Linked DNA regions of Homo sapiens: region 1 is linked to region 2. The links come from fine-mapping of genetic effects on gene expression. A gene starts in region 2. The other region holds a variant in brackets. All regions are shown on one strand. Distances are between the middles of the regions. Region 1 overlaps ADGRB3 (adhesion G protein-coupled receptor B3). Region 2 holds the start of ADGRB3-DT (ADGRB3 divergent transcript).

Region 1 (8,000 bases), 100 kb before region 2:
TAGGAAAAAATAGAAAATTATAAAAAATATATTAAAATTACATGTATCCCACTATATAAAATATTAATAGATGTTTTAATGTTCACACCATTTAGTTTATTTTCCTTTTTGAGGAAAAACAATATCTAGAAGTTTACGTGGCTACTTTATTATCACATTATTTCTTAAGACTTCAATTAATATTTTAGGATGATTTAACATTTAGTGATTCCCTGCTTAGTGCCAAATACTGTGGTGAAATATTCACCTCTCCTTTATTCTAACTTAACCTTCACAGAAAATCTATGTGGTAGGCATTTATTATTCTCTGTTTATTGAGAGTAAGTGACTTCTTTGGGTGGTGCAGATGTGGGAAGCAGAGGAGTCAGGTTTCAATTTCTAATCCAAATTTTAAACCTGTCCTTTCAACTATAACAACTCACTTTTCAAAGAATCAGCCTTATTCCTGAGAATGATTAATATAGATAGTGCTTTTATTTTTCTTTTTCCCCTCTGTCAGAGTCAAGACCCAGAGAAAGAAAAAAAAAACTATAAGAGTTCCTTTAAAATGTGTATGACCTGTCATAGAAAGGATTAAATTTCCATTCATATATTTATGTTGAGACATAATATATAAACAGTGTGCTTAATGAGAACTGGAAGAATTACAATATATGCTGAATTTGAAACTAGTTTACATCATGAAGAAGCCACTCATTAGCAATGACTTGTGATAAGACTGGGGAGAAAACACCACAAGCAATTTATCTCCTAGGATTTCTTCAGAAGTCAGTGGCAAAGCAATAATAGTCAGTGAATGACATCACAATTTTAACTTATTTCAGGGAAAGTGTTTCCATGTAGTTTTCTTCATATTTTAAGCTAAATTCTTCAAACAAAAGATATATGAACATTCAGTTCTTTGCATTTTTAACACAGAAACTTGTGTTCAAAGTTTTTATGAATTTTCCCATGTGGTCCTTCCTACTTAAACAACATGTGAACTCGTGAATGATAATGAATTTGCATATTTAGCTAAAACGTTATAAGAAGAAGAATGCAAAAAGGAATGCTGAAAAGAATTTTTAAAGAACATTTCATCAGAAGCAAAAATGTTTAGGTTGTAAAAAACTGATGACAATAATTCAACCTGTCACCTTAATCAGCCAGTTTGATATTAGATTACTCTTCTATACTTATGATAGAAAAGGTAACAAACAGTGGTTAAGAAGGCCAGGGCAGGCACAGTGCTCAAGCCTGTAGTCTCAGAACTTTGCGAGGGTGAGGTGGGAGGATCACTTGAGCTCAGGAGTTTAAGACCAGCGTGGGCAATACAGTGAAACCCTGCCTCTGCAAAAACTACAAAAGTTTATCTGGGCATAGTGGCACATGTCTGTAGTCCCAGCTACTCGGGAGGCTCAGGTTGGAGGATGGCTTGAGCTGGCGAGGTGGAGGTTGCAGTTGAGCCATGATGGCATGATCACAGCACTGCACTCCAGCCTGGGCAACAGAGCCAGGCCCTGTCTCAAAAATAAAATATTAAAAAAAATTTAAAAAAAGCCAGACTGCTTGTATTCAAATACCAGCTCTCACATTTGATAGCTATGTGACCTTTGACCTTTAGGAGGTTACTTTATCTCCGGGTGCCTTAGTTTCATAATCTGTAAGATGTGGATAAAAATAGTTTTTGTTGTGGTAGTTTCATGAGAATTAAATGTGTTAACAAATGTAAACACTTGTAATAGTGCCTAGCACATAGGAAGCCCTATGCAGACACTAGATACACCATTTTGTGTCCATGCATGCATTTGTTTCATTTTTTTTTCCTGTCAAGCAAACTGACAAATGGTTTTTCACCAACTTCCATGTTTGTCCCAAAGTTTCAAAACTCACAAGCTCATTCTGTATTCTTCTGCTTCCTTTCCCTTCTTAGAAAACCAAAACATATATCACTGTATGCATGCACTTCAGAGAAACAGGAAGTTGGTGGGGGTGAGGAGTTCATACAGAAGACTGACATGGCCTATCAACACTTAACTATGTTCCAGTTCAAACAAACTCACTTTATCTTTGTTAAGGGAATAGAAGAAATGAAACAAACGGTTTTGCCCCAATTTAAATCCTATAAAGTATTTCTGACATCCTTCTATAGATACACCAAAGGTAGTTTTGCACAACATAATGGATAAATAAATATTATGTTTTACTAACACATAATATTGTTAAGGGACAATTTTAAAACCATTGCATGCATATATTATAATAACATGTAAAAATTAACACTGACATTGTGGCCCATACAAGGACATGATTCCTATGAAATATATGCTTCATTCTTAGTAGCCAAATTGGAATTTTTTTAATAAACAGTTGTATCTAGTCCAAAATCTACCCTTCTACCATATTCTCATCCAAGGTTATTGATACAAATTGATGTTTTTTTCTTAAAGATGCTCTAATTACCCATAAGAATATTTACTTGCTTCTTATTGATATTTGTTTCCTATTTATCACATTTTCTTTTCTTTATAGAGACCAGGTCTCACTATATTGCCCAGGCTGGTCTCCAACTCCTGGGCTCAAGCGATCTTGCTGCCTTAGCCTCCCAAAGTTCTGGAGTTATGGCCTATGCCACCACGCCCAGACTTATCACTTTGGATATAAGTGATAACAGAGGTCTTTGAAAAGCCTGCCCAGACACACAACACTATGCAATTTTTAGTAGCACAGACTTCCATTCCCTAAAATAAAGCCTGAGATTTGTGTAAAGGAAATTCTTTATTAATTATCAGAAAATTGCAGAAGTAGAAAATGTTATATAAGCCTAATCAAGTATAAAATAACTGATAAAATAGAGTGTCAGAGAGTTTTGTATAGACCTGCCACTTCTGAATAATTGGCATTATTATTATTAATAATAATGTTGTACCTGTTATTAATGTTGTTTTTCACTTGAAAATGCTAAATAAGCATCTCTATTAACAAGCTACAACCTTTCGATACTAATAGTACACAAAGTTAAACAAAAACATAGAAAGTTAATTAAAACCAAACAAGTGAGATAATGAAACTAAATGACTATTGATGGCTTAAACTCTACAGCTAACTATGTGATGGCTTGATGTGTGTTCATAATTAACCTACAATTTGAATATGTAAACATTCTGTAGATTTCATTTAGTACCACAGTAATTTTCTTTTTAGAAAATAAATCAGATTAACTCTCTTTTCTGGTCAACTATTTCACTTCTCCTCTCTTTCCATATCTTAAACACCTGCTATCCTCACTCTCAGCTGTTTATTCTCAAAAAATGTAAACAAATAGAACAGAGTTGCCAAAGGCTCTCACCATCATGTCTATCACCTACCTGCATCTAGACCTGTGCACTCTGACTTCTCTCATCTCCCTTCATTCTGCTATCTGAAGAAAATCCCTCCAATTGTGCATCAGGCCCCATCCCCTCTTACCTACCTAAAGACAAGCTCTTATTCTCTTTGTTTCCTATGTAATCATTTTTCAATTTCTGCAGAAATTCTAGTAAGCATATAAAAACATGAAAAACTTTCTCCCAACTAAAACTAAACAAAACCCTCACTTGACCACACATACCTTGCCAATATACAATTAATTTGCCAGTTCTTTTTTCCAACAAAATTCCTACAAAGATCTTTCCTTACTCATTGCTTCCGATCCCTTTCTTCGTATTTACCCTTAAATCCAATCCATTCAGGTCATTCAGCCTTCTACCTTTTAAAATTGCACCAGAGGTAAAGTATTGTTGGTAAGGTCATCATCAATGATCGCTACGTTTCTAAGTCAGTAGTCAATGATTGGTCCTCATTTTAGTTGACCAATAGCAGAATTTGAAACATTTGCTTGCACCTGTTCCTTTTACTTGACATATAAGGTATCACATTCTTAGTGTTTTACCTTACTGACCAGTTCATGTTAGTCTCCTTTCCTGTATCCTCTTCATGTCCCCAATCTGTTGGAGTGACCCAGATCATAATCCTCAGACCCCTTCTCTATTTACAATCACTTTCTTGGTAAGATTATACAATTTTGTAACTGTAAATATCCACTGACAGCTCCCATATTTTAATCTTTATTTGGACATCCCTCTGAAACTTTTTATTTGAATGTGAAATATACATCACAGACTTACTTTGACCCAAATCAAACTAGTAATCTTCCTGCAAAATTTGTTTTTTCCTCATCTCAGAAAATAACTCCATTCTTAAAATTGCTCATGCCAAAAACCTTAACGTCAGTTTTGTTGATAACTCTTATTTTCATATTTTATACTTTAGGAAATCTTGTTGGTTCTTCCCTCAAAACATAGCCAGACTCAAATAATTTCTCATTATCTTCACGACCTTCTCCCTCTAGCCAAAATTATCACCTTTGTTCAGTCCACTGTCATTTTCACCCCTAGGTTATAGAAATAGCCTCCCAACTTATTTCCCCCCTAATTCATCTCCCTGCTTCTAGCTTTGTCCCCCAGCTGTTCTCAGTCTATGGGCCATTTAAAATGTATGTCAGATAATGTCACTCTTTGACAGAAAATCCTCCAGTCAGTCCCCATTTTGCTCAGAGAGACAGCCAAAGTCCTCATACTGGCCTGCAAGGTAATACAAGTGCTCTCTCTCTCCTCACCACTGAGATCTCATCTGCTATCAGTTTGCACAAGCCTCA[A/G]TGGCTTCCTGAGTTTGCCACAATGGCTTTCCTGCATTTCCTCCAAATTCCCAGCAATGCTTTTGTTTTATGTATTTGCATTTGCCATTTCTTCTGATGAGAACCCTTATCCCAAAACATTAGCATGGCTCATCCTTATTCCCTTTCAGATCTTTGCTCTCAATTTCTTCTTAGTAAGGTCTTTCTTGATCACTTTAGTCAAACTTGTCCATTCTCCCTAGCAACACCTTTCCCTTTCTCCTTTATTTTTCTTCATAACACTTCACCAACTGTGATTATACGCATAGATTTAATTGATTAACATATTTATTTTTGGCCTCACCCACTAAACCCTGAACTCTCATAAAGCAGGTATTTCTTGGCTACTTTGTTGTGCTCTTAGGCCCTGAAGTAGTACCTGCCCGGTAGGAAGAATTCAGTAAATATTTATTGTTGAAGACTTTCAGTCTAACCTTTTTTTTGGCTTTCCTTTGGAAGAGTCATTTATAGGAAGCTGAGCTGATTTGTAATCATTGAGAACGACGAGATTACAAGCTCATAAAGGAACATGGACAATTTATGTTTGGACTGTCTTATTCCAGGGCCCACAGTTCTCCTGAACCCACTTTCCAATCTTGGGTCTCTACAGTCACTCCACTTCTTGTTGTCTATTTAGTGCTTGATAATAATATTCTTATTGTATGGGGGAACAAGTGGCAAGAACTTGCAATTTTGGAGTCTGAAGACCTGAACTTCAATTCTGATTCCAGCTCAAAGGAATCAAAACACTTATTATTGAGAAACAATGTTCTTATATTCAAAATGGAGGTTTACATCAAGTAATGACAAAAATACCATTGAAAAATTATACACATCCCTTAAACATGTGAAAAAATGTGCAACATCACTAGTAATTAAATAAATGCAAAAAAAGAATGTCTTTTTTCCCTACTAAATAACAAACCACAAAATACTCAGTGCTATGAAGGATGTGGAGAGCTGGCTCCTGGCAGAGGGACAATTATTTGATACAATTCTTATACTTGATTCATAACTCTTAATACAGTAACTCCACTGATGAGCAATAATAATCTAAGATGCATATACAAATTTAAGCATGAAAACATTTATTCTTAACATTTTTATAATACTGGAACATTACTAAAAATGACCACAAATAAAATTTAAGCAAATTATACTTTTCTCACAGATTAAAACATAGCCGTAAGTAATATTTGCTACTATATGGGAAAATGTTTATTACAACTTATTGAGGGAAAATATCCTTATCAAAAGGTGTAACATATTAAAATACTAAACATGACTAATTCAAGTTGTTAAAAAAGAGAGAAAAACTGACAGAAAATAAAGCAACTATTAGTAGTGACTAATAGTTGTCATTATTAGTGACCCAGCTTCTAGGTACTGGGATAAACTTTTCTGTATTAAAAAATGTAAAAATAATAATTTTAAATATGTTCCTGCTTCCCTTAGGAACATAGAAAAATTGTAAGATACTATATTAACTAAGCAACTAAAATTATTTATTCAATATTTAGCATTTTATTTTTGCAAAATTTAATCTTCATTCTCTTTTGGTCATCTCTAAGTGCACAAGTCCTCTAAAAGCTTCTTAGTCTTGTTTTGGGGACTTTTCAAGGCTTTCCAGCTTCAGTCTCTCTCTGTTATCCATCCAGAGATCTTTTTCTCAAAGTCCTCATTGAAATCTTACACAGAACAGTAATATATCTGCATTTAATTAAGTCTAATTAGTAGAGACACTCACACTGTGGGAAAACAAACCTTGCTGTCAACTGACATCAGCAATTGCAGATAAGTAGAGTGCCACTTAATACAGTTTATTATATTTTATTACAATAGAGATATTCAATGTTAATTATGTTGTAAAATTTTTAAAGAATTATTTTCTGGCTGGGCATGGCGGATCACGCCTCTAGTTCTAGCACTGGAGAGGCTGAGCCGGGTGGATAGCTTGAGCCCAGGAGTTTGAGATTAGCCTGGGCAACAAAGAGAGACCCTATCTCTATAAATTTTTTTTTTTTTTTAATTAGCCAGTCATGTTGGCAAGTGCCTATAGTCCCAGCTACAGGAGAGGCTGAAGCAGGAGGGATCTCCTGAGCCCAGGAACTTGAGGCTACAGTGAGCCATGATCATACCACTGCATTCCAAACTGGGCAACAGAACAAGACTCAGTCTCTAAATCAACAACAATGAAATATTTTCTAACTTCCTGAAAGATTGGTAAGCTATTTTAAGTCACACAGTTCTTTACCCATAATGCAAAATTCAAGGCAAAAAAATGTAATAAAATATTTTGTAGCACTCAGTGATTGCTGCTCTATAAAGACTGCAAAATCTTTTCATCCAAAACCTTTCATCGAAATGGAAAAATTCATCTATTTTAAGACAGAAAGAAACTTAGATATTAGGAATTTGCTGCTAATATGGGCTTATGCAATCTTGAGTTCTTTTTCTCTATAAAATCAATTCAGTCTAATGCCATAAGCGTCCATGGAATAATGATCTCACACAAGCATGGTAAAAAGACAATCCCTGGGTTATTCAGTTTAAAAGCATTTTCCTCATAATTTCATTATAACCTCAAAACTTAGAATGCTAAAAAGTTCCAAAAATTTTAATCAGTTTAATTTGACAAATTTAAATTTATCAATATATGAGCACAACTATATTCTTAAATCAACATCATCTTTCTGGTACTTTCCAAATACTTGCATAATAAATTAATAGATATCTTTTCTATTTCTAATTTGTAAATGATTTCCTATATTCTTATCTATCATATATATTTACACAGTATATAATTCTAATTCAATTTAATTCCTCTCAATTGTATCATCACTTTATTCTCTATTGTAGAAAATTAAAAATATGTTAGCTATTCCAAGCACTGATGAAACTTTCAGAAAATAGGCAAACATATTTTTTCACGTATGTCTTAGATTAAATTATTTGTATTTTATATTTTAAGTAACCTTCATTCTGGAATTTAACTTAATTATTCATTCATTCGACAATATTTTTGATCATGCTTATGTCATTGACTCCTAATTTAAAAGCTTTGGTTTCTCATTACAAGTAAAAAAATAAAAATACATATTTATATATGTAGAATACAATAATACATAGCTTTTAAATTATGGTCAGTGACATAAGCTATTATAATATTAGAAATTTTCTTCAATCTTTGCACTAGTATTCCATATTTTCATAGTATTATTTGACCCTGTGTCATCTCTATGTTTTTATCACTTCACTTTATTCCTTCAAGTGCTGAAATCCCTAGTAGAAACCCAAGTTAAACTCT
Region 2 (8,519 bases):
TGATAAGCCAGGAGTGAAAAGTTAGAGCAGCTAAGGTCCTTTTTGGAAAATTTCAGGTAAATGCTATATTTGGTTGGATCTGGATTTTCCAGCGTCCAAGTGCAGTTTGTAAAGTTTTTAGGAAACATTTCACTTACAGAATACGATCCATAAATGACTCCCTTCACCAAAGTTGAACACCAGAAGTCTTGGGCAGCATTAAATCCAAACATAACCAGGAGATAGGTGGAAAATATATAAATCAGCAGGTTACGAACAGCCTTCATCCTATGTCATTTGGCCTGTAAAAATGGCAATGAAAGTAAAATGCAAGTAGGAGTCTACGTGCATTGAGAAAATAAACTCCTTTCAATATTACAGCCAGCTGTTTTCAAGATTTCAGTAAAAAGCCCTTTTTAAAAGAAGGGCAGGTAATTTTTATTTTATAACACAGGAAAATTATCTGTTGCTGTGTGAACAGCGCCCTCATGTGGCCATTCACAATGGTCAAATTCGCAACATTCAATTTAAAAATAACATTTAATAGATTATTAATAGGAATGCCCTAACTTATCTACTAGGATATCCTCCACGTCCATTATCATTCTATCGAATGAAAAGGGAAAACATGGAGTTTTAAAACGTCATAATGTAAATGTTAATTGTCGAAATAGTATTAATCAGTCTATAGTCTATACAACCTTTTCTCTCTCTGTCCTCTGCGGTAAACACTATCATACAAAATCTAATCTGATAATCTGGGAACAGCTGTCATCACATTATTTCTCTCCTCTTAAACGTGAAAAGTAATGATGATAAATTATGGCCACAATTTTAAAAGCACAAATAATAATTTATTACAGATGGAACATCATCTCCCAAATGCCCCACTTGCCTTTGCAGGGGCCACCATGTGAACTGCTCAGAAATTCCTTTGCAAAAACATGGGCATTCATGTGGATTAGTTAATTTTAAAACCATCATTTGAGAAAGGGCATAGATGGATAAATACATAGGGAAGACTTGTTGTTCAACATCACCATTGAGAACCAGGATTTAGGGCAGTCATTTCAATGTGACATGCCCTTTTGGGATACATAAAGTGGATCACTGTATTAGTATCTGTATCCAAAGGTGATATCAGTTAAAAAAAAAAAAAATCCAGAACCATAGTAATTGAGCTGGTTTCAGTCTTTTAATTTTTGAAAAATTATCTTATCAACTGTAATTTAAGGCTTACACATGGTAATAAAATACATTAACATTTTTGTTCCTAGCAGATTTCAATTATTAAATTGCTCCCTTTCCAACAACAACTCCAAAGCTCCTCTTTTCTTTTCTTTTCTTTTTTAATTTTAACCCTGGCTTTGGATAATAAAGTAGTCCTTGGTTATATTTACCTCTGTAAGTTGTTATCCAAAAATAACTTGAATATTTTTCAGCTTTAACCTTTAAGAAGTTATTTCTTAGAATAAATGACACTGCTTTTGTTTGTTTGTTTAGCCTTTGAGCTGATAAAAGTGATGCCAAGTTAATTTTAAAAGTCTTTAGGCTGCAGTCTCTTCCACTGTTCTGTAAACAGAGACAGACATACAGACATATAGATAGTTAAGAGTTTTCATGCCTTTGCCTGGGTCTTCTCTGAATCAAAGGATAAAACCCTCTTCCTTCCCATTGCATAACACACACCAACGCATGCACACCAAATCCAGTGACCGAAGTCCCTGAAGATAGATCTGCATTTTCCAGATTATAATTCAAATTCTATGTCTTGATATAGGCAAACACAGCCCCAACTCTAAATCTCTATATAGCAGCAGTTTAAAATAACATCAGAACTGCTGGGACCATCAAAACAGTGTTCTCTGTTTCAAGCAAATAGCTCAATGAATAATGCATTTTCTTCATGAGAAAATAAAGCCAATGAGCATTTAAAGGTTAAAAAAAAACAGAGAAAGTTGTAAGAAATTCTGGAAATAATTTCCTTTTTTTTTTTTTTTTTTTGGTGTTGCACTTTGCAGGCAATGCAGGTCTGCGCAGTGTTCTTCAGGATAGAGTGTAGGCGTTGAGAGCCAATGTGACAATAAGTGTCTAAATTAGGAATTCCATCCATGAAAGGGGACTTCATTTTATAATCAGGAACTCAAAAAGAGGTCGTATGTCTTTTCCTAATGAAATTGGTACTTTTGCTTTCATTTATTTGACAGTGCATGTCTGCAATGCCGTGCTCATCAATGATCAGAGAGTGAGGAAATAGCTCTGAATTCACTTTAATGCCTGCTCAAGAGAGCGCACTCAATATAATGCTCTTTATTTTTAATCAGTCTGGAGTACACAGTCTTATTTTGTTCTAAATAATAAAAAATAAATCATTACCCTCACCCCCCTTTGGACTGCAGGGCCCGTTCAAAAAGCCGTGTTTCCCTCTTAAAGAAGGGGTGGGGGCGGGGGCAAAGGCTGGCCACGGAGGTGTCAAGGATGTTTTATTTATTTATTTATTTATTTATTTATTTATTTATCTCTTGCTGAGAAGCAAACCAGCATTGAGTTTAGCTATTCTCAAAACTGATTTTCTGGGTGACACTTTAGTTTAGTCGAACATAGACGGCGCCATCACTCCACAGATTTTTCCCCCCAATAGAAGACCCACTGCCTTCTCTTAACTTCCTTTTAACCTAAAATTTTCCCCTCATAAAATTACCCCAATCACACAAAACTGCCAGATTTTCTAGGTCTCTCCGCTTATTCCTTCTGACCCAGCACATCTCTTGAAAACCAGACTTCTCTAACTTTTCAACTGCGGCGTTTAAGTAAATGCAGACAGTCGGATCTGCTCACAGCCTCCCCATCCGCCAGCAACAGCCTTTCCTTTCATTTTCCTCCCTTCTCAAACATTAAGCCCAAAGCTCCACGGTGGCGACCCCCGGCAGAGAAAAGGTGACCCCTGGACCCCCTTCCTTACCTTCCACTCCGAAAGCTCAGGGAGGCTCTTGCTCTAAGACACCAGCACAGGCACGCGTCCCAGCAACAGTGACGGAGAGACTCCCCTTCGGTCCCAATCACCGTTGCCCATTTTCCCCGGCTCAGCTTCCAAAATCAGGATTTATTTTTAAAAATGCATACATACGAAAAGCAAAAGGTGGGGGGTGGGAACCAAAGGGGGGTCGATGAGAGAGAGGAAAAAAAAGCCAGCAGGAGCCCAGAACCTTGCGCCGTATCCAACTGAATCCAACCTCCAAACCGAGGGGGGCTAAAGGGAGGGAGAAGCCCCCCCAAGGGAGACTCTAAGGAACCCCCCAAAATGTAAGTGGCTTAATAGCAAAGATTTGTTTCATAAAAGCTACCCCCAACAAACCAAGAAGCAAAGAAAGCGCTGAGACGAGAAGTGACCGGCGGCGGCGGCGGCTGCTATGGCAGATTTGTTGGGGCGGTGGGTTTATTACAGGAGTATTCGTGGTCGGATCGGAAGGCTCAAGCTTATGCTTTTTCCTCTTTCCGCTTTCCTCCCTCCTCCTCCTCCCCCCTGCAGGTACTGATGGACGGACGGCGACTAAGGAGAGCGGGGAAAAAAATCCTTGGCTGGTGATGTCGGAAAGCTGTTTGAATGCCCAGCGAGGAGGGAGGCGCGAGAGGGAGCGAGATAGTAAAGCTCTGTCTCGGGTGTGCGCGCCGGCGCGCAGTGCTCGCTCTCCCTTGGGCGCGCGCGCGGGGGGTGCGCGTGTCCCGGGAGCGCGTCCGCGCGGCGGCCTCCCGCGTGCTCGTGTGCGCGCGCGTCCCGGGTGCCGCGCGCCCTTCTTATGCACAGCTGCGGTGCGCCCCGCCGCCCGCCAGAGGCTCGGCTCGCGCGGCGCGGCCGCTGCGACTTCCTGGAGTTCTGCCTGCCGGGGGCGCGGGCGGGTGTGTGAGAGAGAAGGCGAAGGGAGCCGCGGGGTGGGAGAGGAGGGAGTCCCGGCGGGAGGGCGGGGGAGAGGCTGGCGGGAGGGGGGCTCCACGGAGCTCCAGCCAGGGCCGCGGTTCGCCTGCACGTCACGGCTACTCAAACCCAAGCACGTCCCGAAAGCGGTATTTTCTGCGTCTGGGAGGTTTTTGCATCCTCAGTTCCCACCGCTGGGGCTGGCGGCGACCAACTGTAAGAGAAACTCACTGGGAGGCGAGGCAGGGGGGTGCGGAGGATGGGAAGGCGACTCTGAAGGGTGGGAAGTGAATGCTGGACTTGATCGTCTTTCTCTTTCTTTCAGCGCAGACCTGTCGCAGCCAGAGAGCTGTCATTTCAGTACCGGGATTCAGAATTGATCCAGTCCGCAGCGGAGGGGGCACATCCCAGCTACCGAGCTGCTGAGTGTCTCTGGCTGGAACAATAGTATTTTTTTCTCTGCGAGGCTGCAATTAACATCTTATTTGTTCTGGCTCCATACAGGCTTTGTCAGGATCGCGGTGCGGCGACCGACGTTGGGCTCTTGCATTGCTTTGTGCTTGGCAATGGAATCATGGTTTCGGGGTCTAAACTTTTGTTTCGTTTTGTAGTCTTAATGTATCTGATTCTTTTTCAAGTTTCCCTAGTAACAGGTTTGGGGACGGGGTGGGAAGAAGCGAGAAAAGGGGTGAAGAGAAAAAACCAGATTATATAGAAAGGAAAAAGGGAAAAGGGATGTTTCCCCACCTTTTAATCTAACTATCTATCTGTCTGTCTATCTATCATCATAGATAGTCATTTTGCCTCCTGGACAGTTGGCTGACGAAGTGTCTGATAAACCAGCTTCAGATACATGCTACAAAAGGTCATTCGCCTCCTGATTATGTTTCTACTTGTAAACGCAGTTGGTGGTTTGCAAAACAAGTGCTAAAATAGTGCAGTGATGTGGTGGGAGGAAACCATAATGGGTAATTCATATAAAGTGCTGGAATCTTCGTAAGGGTGAGTTTCTCGAGCGGCAGGTGAAGTTGAATAAAGCAATTTTCCATCATTTGTTCCCCTCACTCTTGCATTTTTTTCCTCCGCTTGTTTCTCTCCCCTGGGGCGATTATGGATAGCCAAGAACACCATTTTAAAAGAGATTGATAGTGAAAACAGGAAGTTTATGGTCTGTTATCCACTGGAGTTGTTTGAAATATTAAAATTGGTCCTTTACTTCTTAATGCATATTAATAGAGTGACCCTCTTCAAGGCTTTCCCGTCTTAAACGAATGCCTGGGATAAACACTGTAAGGGGAAACAGTTAATAATTCCCCAGCAGGCTTTAACTATTTTCCCAGTAACAAATCACCGGCAAGAGAGCAGCCTGGGTGGCATTTTGGTTTTGTGTCATTTTGGTTCTTTACAATATTTTTTATTCATTTAAGGAAATGTTAAAAGGAAATAATTAGGGTTTATGTCCAGAACAAATTTTGAAACACCGTTTAAGCAACACATTTTCTTTTAAAAACAAAGAACATTGAGCAACACAAAGGAGAAAAACATTTTATTTATTTCAACTTCCCTAGAGATCGTAATTATGATTTTCGCAAGGCAATTTGGTCAGTTCTGTTACTTTATCCAGAGGAAAAAAAAGCATGACAGATGTGGAATAAAAACGGAGGAAAAAATGCTTTGGATGGTTTATACATAAAAAGGAAAGAATGTAATGTGAGGTTCAGTTATACCTCTATTTTGCATCTAGTGATTTCTCATATTATCTTGTAACACTGATTTTGATGTTTCTTAGAAATTCTTAAAGTCATGACACAGTGGCATAAGAATAACAGCTGAAAGGGACAATTTAAAAGCCTAAATCCTAAATGGAAAGGTTCACTTACTCCCAGGATCATTTATATTCAAGTAGAAGTCAGGGCAGGGTCAGAAAAGAAAGCCACCCTTAATAAAGCGCTTCACCCTTCACATTGTTTCTCATAACCTTCATAAATTGCAGGCTACTGAGCTGGCCTGATGATGATCCTTCTGAGATATATTTATAGCAGATGATTTGTGGATGATAACTACGCCAAGCAAGACACTGTCTCCAGTAACCCCAGGCTCGTCTGACTTCCTCAGGGGATTATAATAAAGAATCACAAAAAGAACCCTATATGGACAGTCTGGTCTCTGGACACTAACAACAGCACAATCCAAAGGCAAAGAAAGGAGGAACCACCTTGTTTCATGTCTGCAAGCTGCTCCATATGAAAGCATTGCTGACATGTTGACCCAACAGCAAAAAGAGAGCAGCAGTTTACACACCCTCAGCTCTCTGTCCTTTCCTTTCTATTGATGTTGGTCCACTTTTATGACTGAATACATATTAAAATCACCATTTCAAATTATAATTATCTGCTTTCATTGGTCTCTTTCACAAGTCTATGTCTATATTTATGTTTACATATATAAACACATATACACATATTTTATACATACATATGTATATGTATGCACGCATTATTTGTAAGTACACATACACGTGTGTGTATATATATGTATATGATATGTATATGTGTATTTCAGTTGATACACATATATTTGCTTGGGAAGTTTCACTACATTGCTTTGTATTTCTCTTTTATAAGGTAATGCATTTAATTCCAAAACTACCACATTAATTGTATAAATTGATTATTACATAAGTTTCCTTGATGATTTACAGAAGAACTATTGAGAGGTCAGTGTTAGCACATCAAAATATAGTCTGGTATGGCATTTTAAATTGACCCAGGTATCTAATATTAAAGCCTTTCAAATTTATCTCTCCTGCTATTATTTTATTAAGATTACTTTGGAATGATGAGGTTATAAGTGTGATTTATTTCTGTTTCATCTTTTTGTCTGTATGTGCTAAGTTTAGTCCCTCCACTTTGAGAATAACCCTATAATCCAGGATCATTGCTTAAAATTCAGTATCATTTGCAGAATTCTCATACTCAAATAAGAATGTTTCTAGAATATGTTTACTCAATTTTAGAAAGTATTTTCTCTTTCCTTCTTTCTGTCATAGTTTTTCTGATATTACTGTATTACCACATTCTAAACTCTGTGACTTGTTATTTTCAGTAAGGCTTTAAGAAGCATGGATAGGTTTGTAGGTTATTTCTTGTTAAATATGCCTTAATTTTTTAGTATTTAGTATTAGTATTTAGTTTTTAGTATTTAGTATTTAGTATCTCCCATATATATATATGCACACATATATATATACACATATATATGTACACACATACATATATACACACACATATATATACACACACATACACAAAGCTTTGGAATGTTAATTAAATGATCAAAATATTACAAGATTACATTGTTATGAGAACTTATCCTTAATATTAGCATATTTACTATAAAGTTAAACAACTTCTTCTCCTCTGTCTCCTGTTTATTATCATTATTTTATTATTATTAAAAAAGGAAGTCTCTCAGAAACCAAGCTGTATATCCTCTAGTCTCTATGTAAAAAAACAAATTGGTCATTTTCTACTTGGACATCCCAGAATAGAAAGTACATTGAAGTACTAAAAAATAAAGGGATAGACTTGGGGTTAAGGGAGATGTCATAGAACAGCTATCCTGGGTTAGTTCAAGTGTAGTCCTATTCCATGCTAGGCAAAGTCAAGGTTACAAAAATCCCAGTTGCATCAGGTTTCCATTTTTTATCATTATTTCCCTATACAACGATACAAGTTAAAAAAAAGTCGGTAAATACTTTTGGCCATCAATTTTCAAGATTTCATTGGTGATATTAAGGAAATGCTGTAAGTAGGTAACACATAATGTCATATTTGTGTGCTGTAGAAGTATCTTGGAAAATATGGACTTTAAAACCTCAAAATATGGGTTTGCAATCGAACATACATTCACCCCCAAATTTGACCTTTTTCAGCTAGTTATTTTCTCATATAAAGTTACTATACTTACACCATTATCTTTAATCCCTGAAATTTCAATTATACTAGAAATCAAGATTCTTCATTTTTACTCACGAAACTGACACTAAGTATATACCTCATTAAGGACAAGAAGCTATGAATTCTCTGGACTTCAGTTATCTCACAGAAAAGAGCTTGATTGAATAATGTCTAAGGCTCTTCCTGACATAGTCTAAATAACAGAAGGTGTCTCACAAGAAATGGAAGCAGTGAGAGAAAAATGCAATTAAATCCTAGACTAGAAAGAATCACAATTTTCCCACTCACAGGTTGGAAATGCCTCTCTATTCTATCACAATTTTGAAAACCTCCATAGTTTTACTAGCTTTGCCTTTCTCCCTTGCTATCATCTTCTGAGGTACAGACAGTCCTTTCCATTTTTATTCCTCTCCCACTCTGATAATTTTTTTCTTTGACAGAAGTCCCACTTTATCATTAATGATGACAATAACTAAGGCTGCCAGGAACAGCACATCTGCTGAGCTTTATCAACACCAGGTATTGAAGTCTATGGACTACCTATTATTTCTGAACATTTATTCATGTTCAGTCCTGTTTCTACCAATTCTGATCCACTTATCTCTACCATTTCTCTTCCTGGCAGATTCTCTCATTTTGCCTTCTGGATCTCCATGCTTTTTTATACC

What was found.
Region 1: its variant is fine-mapped to the expression of ADGRB3-DT in whole blood (TOPMed, PIP 0.92).

What each region holds. Positions count from the first base shown.
Region 1 is chr6:68,734,902-68,742,901 of GRCh38, reverse strand. All of the region lies in intron 3 of ADGRB3 (adhesion G protein-coupled receptor B3), which reads right to left. Among named protein-coding and RNA genes, the nearest start is that of ADGRB3, 100 kb to the right of the region's middle. The variant A/G (reference allele first, on the strand shown) is at 4,676.
Region 2 is chr6:68,630,423-68,638,941 of GRCh38, reverse strand. It overlaps ADGRB3-DT (ADGRB3 divergent transcript), which reads left to right and starts at 4,618. Exons shown (of 2, transcript NR_125872.1): 1 at 4,618-4,757; 2 at 5,886-6,279. ADGRB3 (adhesion G protein-coupled receptor B3) reads right to left here and starts at 3,660. Exons shown (of 32, transcript NM_001704.3): 1 at 2,942-3,660; 2 at 1,380-1,551; 3 at 1-281. The coding sequence starts at 266. LOC127898563 reads right to left here and starts at 3,052. Exons shown (of 1, transcript NM_001414704.1): 1 at 2,975-3,052. The coding sequence starts at 3,052. The coding sequence ends at 2,975. RefSeq lists a silencer at 3,712-3,921.